Linked DNA regions of Homo sapiens: region 2 is linked to region 1. The links come from fine-mapping of genetic effects on gene expression. A gene starts in region 1. The other region holds a variant in brackets. All regions are shown on one strand. Distances are between the middles of the regions. Region 1 holds the start of LINC01237 (long intergenic non-protein coding RNA 1237). Region 2 overlaps LINC01237 (long intergenic non-protein coding RNA 1237).

What was found.
Region 2: its variant is fine-mapped to the expression of LINC01237 in whole blood (TOPMed, PIP above 0.99).

Annotation. Positions count from the first base shown.
Region 1 is chr2:241,879,807-241,882,700 of GRCh38, forward strand. It overlaps LINC01237 (long intergenic non-protein coding RNA 1237), which reads left to right and starts at 1,557. Exons shown (of 4, transcript NR_110220.1): 1 at 1,557-1,672; 2 at 2,754-2,829. It overlaps LOC105373978 (a long non-coding RNA gene), which reads right to left and starts at 1,521. Exons shown (of 3, transcript XR_924077.3): 1 at 1,309-1,521; 2 at 1,063-1,211. RefSeq lists an enhancer at 987-1,577.
Region 2 is chr2:241,951,577-241,954,470 of GRCh38, forward strand. The region is part of intron 2 of LINC01237 (long intergenic non-protein coding RNA 1237); the gene reads left to right. Among named protein-coding and RNA genes, the nearest start is that of LINC01238, 18 kb to the right of the region's middle. The variant A/T (reference allele first, on the strand shown) is at 1,132.

The DNA of each region.
Region 1 (2,894 bases):
TTCTCCAGCACACTTAGAAGCATCCGCCCACCCAGCTACACCCCTAAATTTTTCCCTTGATGCCCAGGGCCAGGCATCCTATGGCCATTTGATTACAGATGTCTGCAGGTGGCAATCTGAGTGCCTGTATGCTACTCCTGTGGGCAGCTAGCACCCTGGTACCCCTGGGAACAGAGCGTGAATGCCTTTAAAGCTAGTTGGAGCAGAGAACCAATTCCAGACACCCAGAGACATTTAGATAACTCATTACTAGGGTCCTGGCCCTGGGATCACTCCCAGGACTAGTTCTGTGTCTGTCCAGGTGTGATCCAGGAGTGCAGTGACGGATGTGGATGTGGGATTGGCACAGGACTTCCGCCAGCAGAAGAAAGGAAGGGAGGGGAGGGGAAGAGAGGGCAGGGGAGCAGAGCGGAGGAGAGAGGGGAGCAGTCTTTCCAGCTGGGGCTGGCCTAGGCTGCTGGGTCATTTGGGAAGAAAAGGTGATTTGGACTCAGGGAGACTGAGGGTGCCCTCGGGCCAGCATCTGAGGAGAGTGACAGGGGTTTCCTGGCTCCACAGCCCCAGGTGGCCTTGGTGGGTGCAGGCAGAAAATGACCTTTTCAAGTCCAGTTCCAACCCAGAGGGGGTTCCTAGACCCAGCGCCAATCAAGGGGCACCAGGGAGGCAGCAGAGGTTCCCGCAAATCCAGAGCAGAGTGGCTGCCAGACACCCCACATCCTCTTCGCAGCAGACTGAAGGCCACCCCACACTTGGAGGAGCCCGGGTGAAGCATCTGGGGAAGACCCTCAGCCCTGGGAGAGTCCCTCCAGGGGTGAGCAGGTGGGCTGCCCCTCAGGGTGCGGCTCATTTCGATGTAAGTTTTATAAAATAAGAAAAGGCGCCCTATAGCACCCCTTTGGGAGCCTCGTGTCACCTCCAAACATATACCTCGCTTCCAGGTCAGAAGTAGTGAAATGACCATTGCCAATGCAAATGGAACTGCCTTAGGACACATGGGGGAGGTTAGGGCCTGCTGTGGGGCCTTATGGTGGGCCCCGAGGGGCCCCGCACACCTGTGCTCACCTCCCAGGTCATCGCTGGGCCGCCTCTGTCCCCTGGGAGGCTCTGCCTCGGGGAGCCCTCTTCCCAAGCTCCCAGCAATGACTTCCAGGCCTCCCTCAGCATCAAGAGGAGCCACGTCTTCTTCTTGTGACCCAGCAGTATAATTCACCCTAAATAATGGCAGAATGGGTTGTGTGTAGTCTTTAAAAGTCAAAACAATTTTGCACACAACAGGAGTCATTCAGCAGTGGCTAACACTCTCCTGACCTGTGTCGGCGCTGGGCTCCAAGGTGTACCTCCGCACGCATGGGGTTAACTACGCCCCCATGACCATTCCCTGCAGGAGGGGCGGGACAGAGGACTGCGTTATGTTTCTCCTAAAAGAAAATCATGAAAGTCACACACTCCAGGTGCCACACTTATTATGGAGGGAGGGAAAGCAGATGAGCGGGCGGGAAAACTAGCGGGCTTGCCACGCCCAGGCAGCGCTGCTCGGGTTTCCGCTTCCTCCGCCCCTTCCTTTTTCTCTGTGCATCCTCAGTGACGCGGGGCACAGCTCTGCCCGGGGGCCTACCAGAGCCCACCTGGACCCCACACTGGGTCAGCCCTGGTGCGGAGGAGGCCGCTGTAGGTGGGCACGGGGCAGCACGCGTTAAGGGGCTGGACGGGGGGTGGCCATGCGTGTGAGGGCGCTGAGCAGGGGCGTGCCCATACGTGTGAGGGGGCTGGGTAGGGGCGTGGCCCAGCGTGTGTGTGTGTGTGTGTGTGTGTGTGTGTGTGTGTGTGTGTGTGTGGCTGGACAGGGGTGTGGCCACGCGCGAGGGGGCCGTGCAGGGGGCGTGGCCACGAGCGAGGAGACTAAGGGGCGTGGTCACGCGTGTGAGGGGCTGGGCTAGAGGAGTGGCCCTGTGTGCGGGGGCTGGACGGGGGCGTGGTCATGTGCGAGGAGGCTGAACAGGGGGCGTGACCACGTGTGGAAGGGGGCTGATCGGAGGTGTGGCCACATGTAAGGGGGCTGGGCAGGGGGTGTGGCCACGTGTGAGGGGGGGCTGGGCCGGGGCGTGGCCACACGTGTGCTGGCTCTGCTGTGGGCTTCCTTCCCTTCCTGTGCAGGTGGTGGTGCCCTCTGCGCCTTCACTGGGGCCCAGCCAAGTAACTGAATCCAGCCAGGAGCAAGGGCAGACGCTGGCACAGGTCCTGCCACTGTCCCCAACCTGGGTTTCAACACAGCTGAGGCCTGGCATAGTCTTTCTGGGCGCCTCTGGCTGGCTCGGTCTGAAAGGTGGGACAGATGCAACTGGGGCCTCCCCGGGTGCAGCGTGGGTGGCTCCTGGCTGGGGAAGTGAGAAGCCCTCCGTGCGGTGTCTCTGAAGCAGCCCCAGGCCAAGGCTGTGGCGTGCTTGGTGGTGCTGTAGGCCCAAGATGTTTATGGGTCGAGGGTCCCCGGGGCCGGGATTCTGATCCCTGGTGAGAGGTGGCTGGGAGGAAGTCCAGACGTGTCCTGAGTGGCCATTCCTCACACTGAGGTGACACCGCCTCTCCAAACACGTGACGTGGCTGGAAGCAGATGCTGCTGTCCGGTTCTCCCTCCTCTCCGTCCCTGGCTGGGACATGTGGATCTCACCCGCAGCCACTTTCTTCTGGCCTCTGTCCCCCTGCCTGGGACACGTGGACCTCACCCCCAGTCTCCTTCTCTCCTCTGCCCCCCGCAGGCGCGGCCAGGTCACAGTCGGCACCAGAAGTTTGGCAGATCTCAGTGAGGCGTTAGTTTGCATTTCCTTGTGACGGGTGAGTTGAACACCCTTTCATGAGTGTATTGATCACTGTGTACCTTCTTTGTTGAAATGTCGTCA
Region 2 (2,894 bases), 72 kb after region 1:
ACAGCAACAAATAAGTAAAAACAAAAACCTCCATACCGACTGCATTCCTTTCAAGTGTTTAACTGTTTAACTTCAAAGTCAGAAGTGCCCTAAACTCAAAAACGGCACCAACAACTACTTGAGTGGGACTCTTTTGTTTGCAGTCATCAGGAACTCAATTCAAGCTGATAAAAGCCAGAAAAAGAATGTCATTGAAGGGGCAGGGGTTGTTGATGTATGCAATTACTAACTGCAAAGGGGCATTCAGGAATGGGTGGATCTAGGGGCTTCAGTGGTCTCTATCTCTTACCCATGCCTTCCTCTGAAATGAGTCCCCCAGATTTCTCCTCCTGCCAGCTCCTGGCAGCCACGGTCATTTCTTTGCAGCCTCAAGTCTACTCTGAGATTTCCTCTTCCCAGCAGTTCAAACAGGAGCCTCTGATTGAGACGCTGGCACTGGCTGGGGCCTTGTGCCCACCTCTGAGCCCATCACTGCAGTGGGGCATTGGGTGCTCTCATCGGCCAGGCCTGGGTCACGGGACCATCTTGGAGGGCAGGGTGGGGCAGCCCACGGAGCCCAGGCTGCGTGTCTCCGGAAGAGAATCGAGGTGGGACTCGGGAGGGAAGGGTGCTGGGCAGGGAAGGTAGGGAGTGCTCAGGAGCGCTTCAGCGGAAGGACCTGGAAATGGCTCTGGCTGTCTGTGGTCAGTTTCCTGCTCCTTGCACATCCAGAGAAGGAAAGGACTTTTTTTCTTGAGATGGAGTTTCACTCTTGTTGTCCAGGTGGGGGTGCAATGGTGAGATCTCGGCTCACTGCAACCTCCGCCCCCTGGGTGTGGGTGATTCTCCTGTCTCAGTCTCTGTGGTAGCTGGGATTACAGGCAGATGCCACGATGCCCAGCTAATTTTTGTATTTTTAGTAGAGACAGGGTTTCACCATGTTGGTCAGGTTGGCTTCCAACTCCTGACCTCAGGTGATCTGCCTGCCTCAGCCTCCCAAAGTGCTGGGATTACAGGCGTGAGCCACTGCGTCCAGCCAGGAAAGGACTTTTTTAAGCTTTGGATTACAAGAATGGGTGATGATCTCTCTCGGCTTGCCTGGCATCATTTTGAGACAGGGTTGTCTGTTAAACCTTTTTAAATACAAATAAG[A/T]TGCATATTAACGTTTAAGGAAATCTAATGTTTTCCACGATATGACTTTGAGAACCTTAAGCTCTTGCGTGTATGTTTAGCGGGGACGGGACCGTGCCCTTTGTGGAAGCCCAAGCCTCACTGTGATGACATCTGGAGGTGGGCCTTTGGGAGGTGATTTGGGTTAGATGGGGTCATGAGGGTGGGGCCACATGAGGGGATTCGTGCCATCCTAGGAAGAGGAGGAGACCAGAGCTCGCTCTCCACCGCCCTGGCCAGGAAGCCGCCCTAGCAAGAACCCGTCCCGGCCGGCCCGACCTCAGACCCACAGCCGCCAGATTGTGAGCAATGGAGGTCTGTGTGCGCCCCCTCTGTGGTGGTGGTTACAGCAGCCCCTCAGACGGAGAGTGAAGAGTGTTTAGCTGGTTCTCCGGGAAGCAGCGCCTGAGATACAGGCTCAGGGCTGCCGGCTCAGTCGGGAGTGAGGCTCAGGGGAAAGGGGTGGGGGAAGAGCAAGGTGGGTGCGGGGGGCAGGCGAGGGAGAAGGGGGGAGAGGGAGGGGAAGGGGAGGGGGGAGGAGAGGGAGAAGGGAGGAACCGAGGGGACGGGGGGCTCAGCGCACGGGGGCATCTTCCAAATGGCCACATAAATGAGTGCAATTCCGGGTCCACCCGAAGGTGCGGGGGGAGGTTCCTCTCCCGGTTCCACCTCACACGGGATGCTGTTTCCCCGCACGCGGCTGCTCCTGGAGGGTGAGAAGGGGTTGCAGTGGTTCCGCTCAGGGCCAGGTGGGGCAGGAGGCCGGACCCCTGTCTTGGTGGACGCTCGGCCGCAGCCCTCTGTTGTGGCCTCAGCAGCGACTCCAACCGAATCTGTGGCCAGAGGCTGTGGGGAGTGGAAGCTGGAGGACCCAGGCTCGAGGGCGTCTGACCCAGGGAGCCCGCAGCAGGCAGGTCACCCCGACTTGTGGCCCCGTGATGCTGCAGGGACCCCAGCTGTGGGAAAAGCCACGCTACTGTCCCCCAGAGCAGAGGACCAAGTGCTCAGCTGCACAGCCCGGCCGGGGGTGCTCGGCCGCCGTGTCTGCAAAGGCCTGGAGCAGATGTACCCAGGCCCCAGGGAGGAGCCGGAGGTGCCCAGGCTGTGGGGAGGAGCCGGAGGTGCCCAGGCCGGGGGGAGGAGCCAGATGTGCCCAGGCCGGGGCTGTCCTGAGGTCTCCGCTGGCCCGTCGCTGTCCTCTCTCTCCTGTGCCGGGGTGGCTGCCCTGCAGGCTCCAGTGAATATAATTTTCTCTTGGCTTAGCTGCATCCTGCAGTTTTGATGTGTCTTTTCTTCATCACCATTTATTCAACACATATCCAAATTCTGCTATGATTTCTTTTGGCCACTGGATTATTTAGAAGCATATTCTTTAATTTCCAGGAAGTTTAGCATTTTTTAGTATTTTTTTTCACTTCTAAGTTTACTGAGGTCAGAAAATATGCTCTGAATTTTAAATTTAGATCCTTTGAAATTATTTGAGGCTTTCCCTATGTCCCAACATATGGAAATTTTGGTGAATGTTATGTGTACACTTAAGAAGAAGAGGAAGCAAGCCATTTTGGATACAAGGTCTGAGGCAGAACAATTGGGCCGCTCTAGTTGATTATGTTGCTCAGGTCTTCCTTATCCTGACTAATTTTATGTTATCCCAGTTACCGAGAAAGGCACGTGACAATTCCCCTATGCTTGTGGATTTTTCTCTTTGTATTTGGCTCTCATTACTCTTAGTAGGGTGCTCCAAG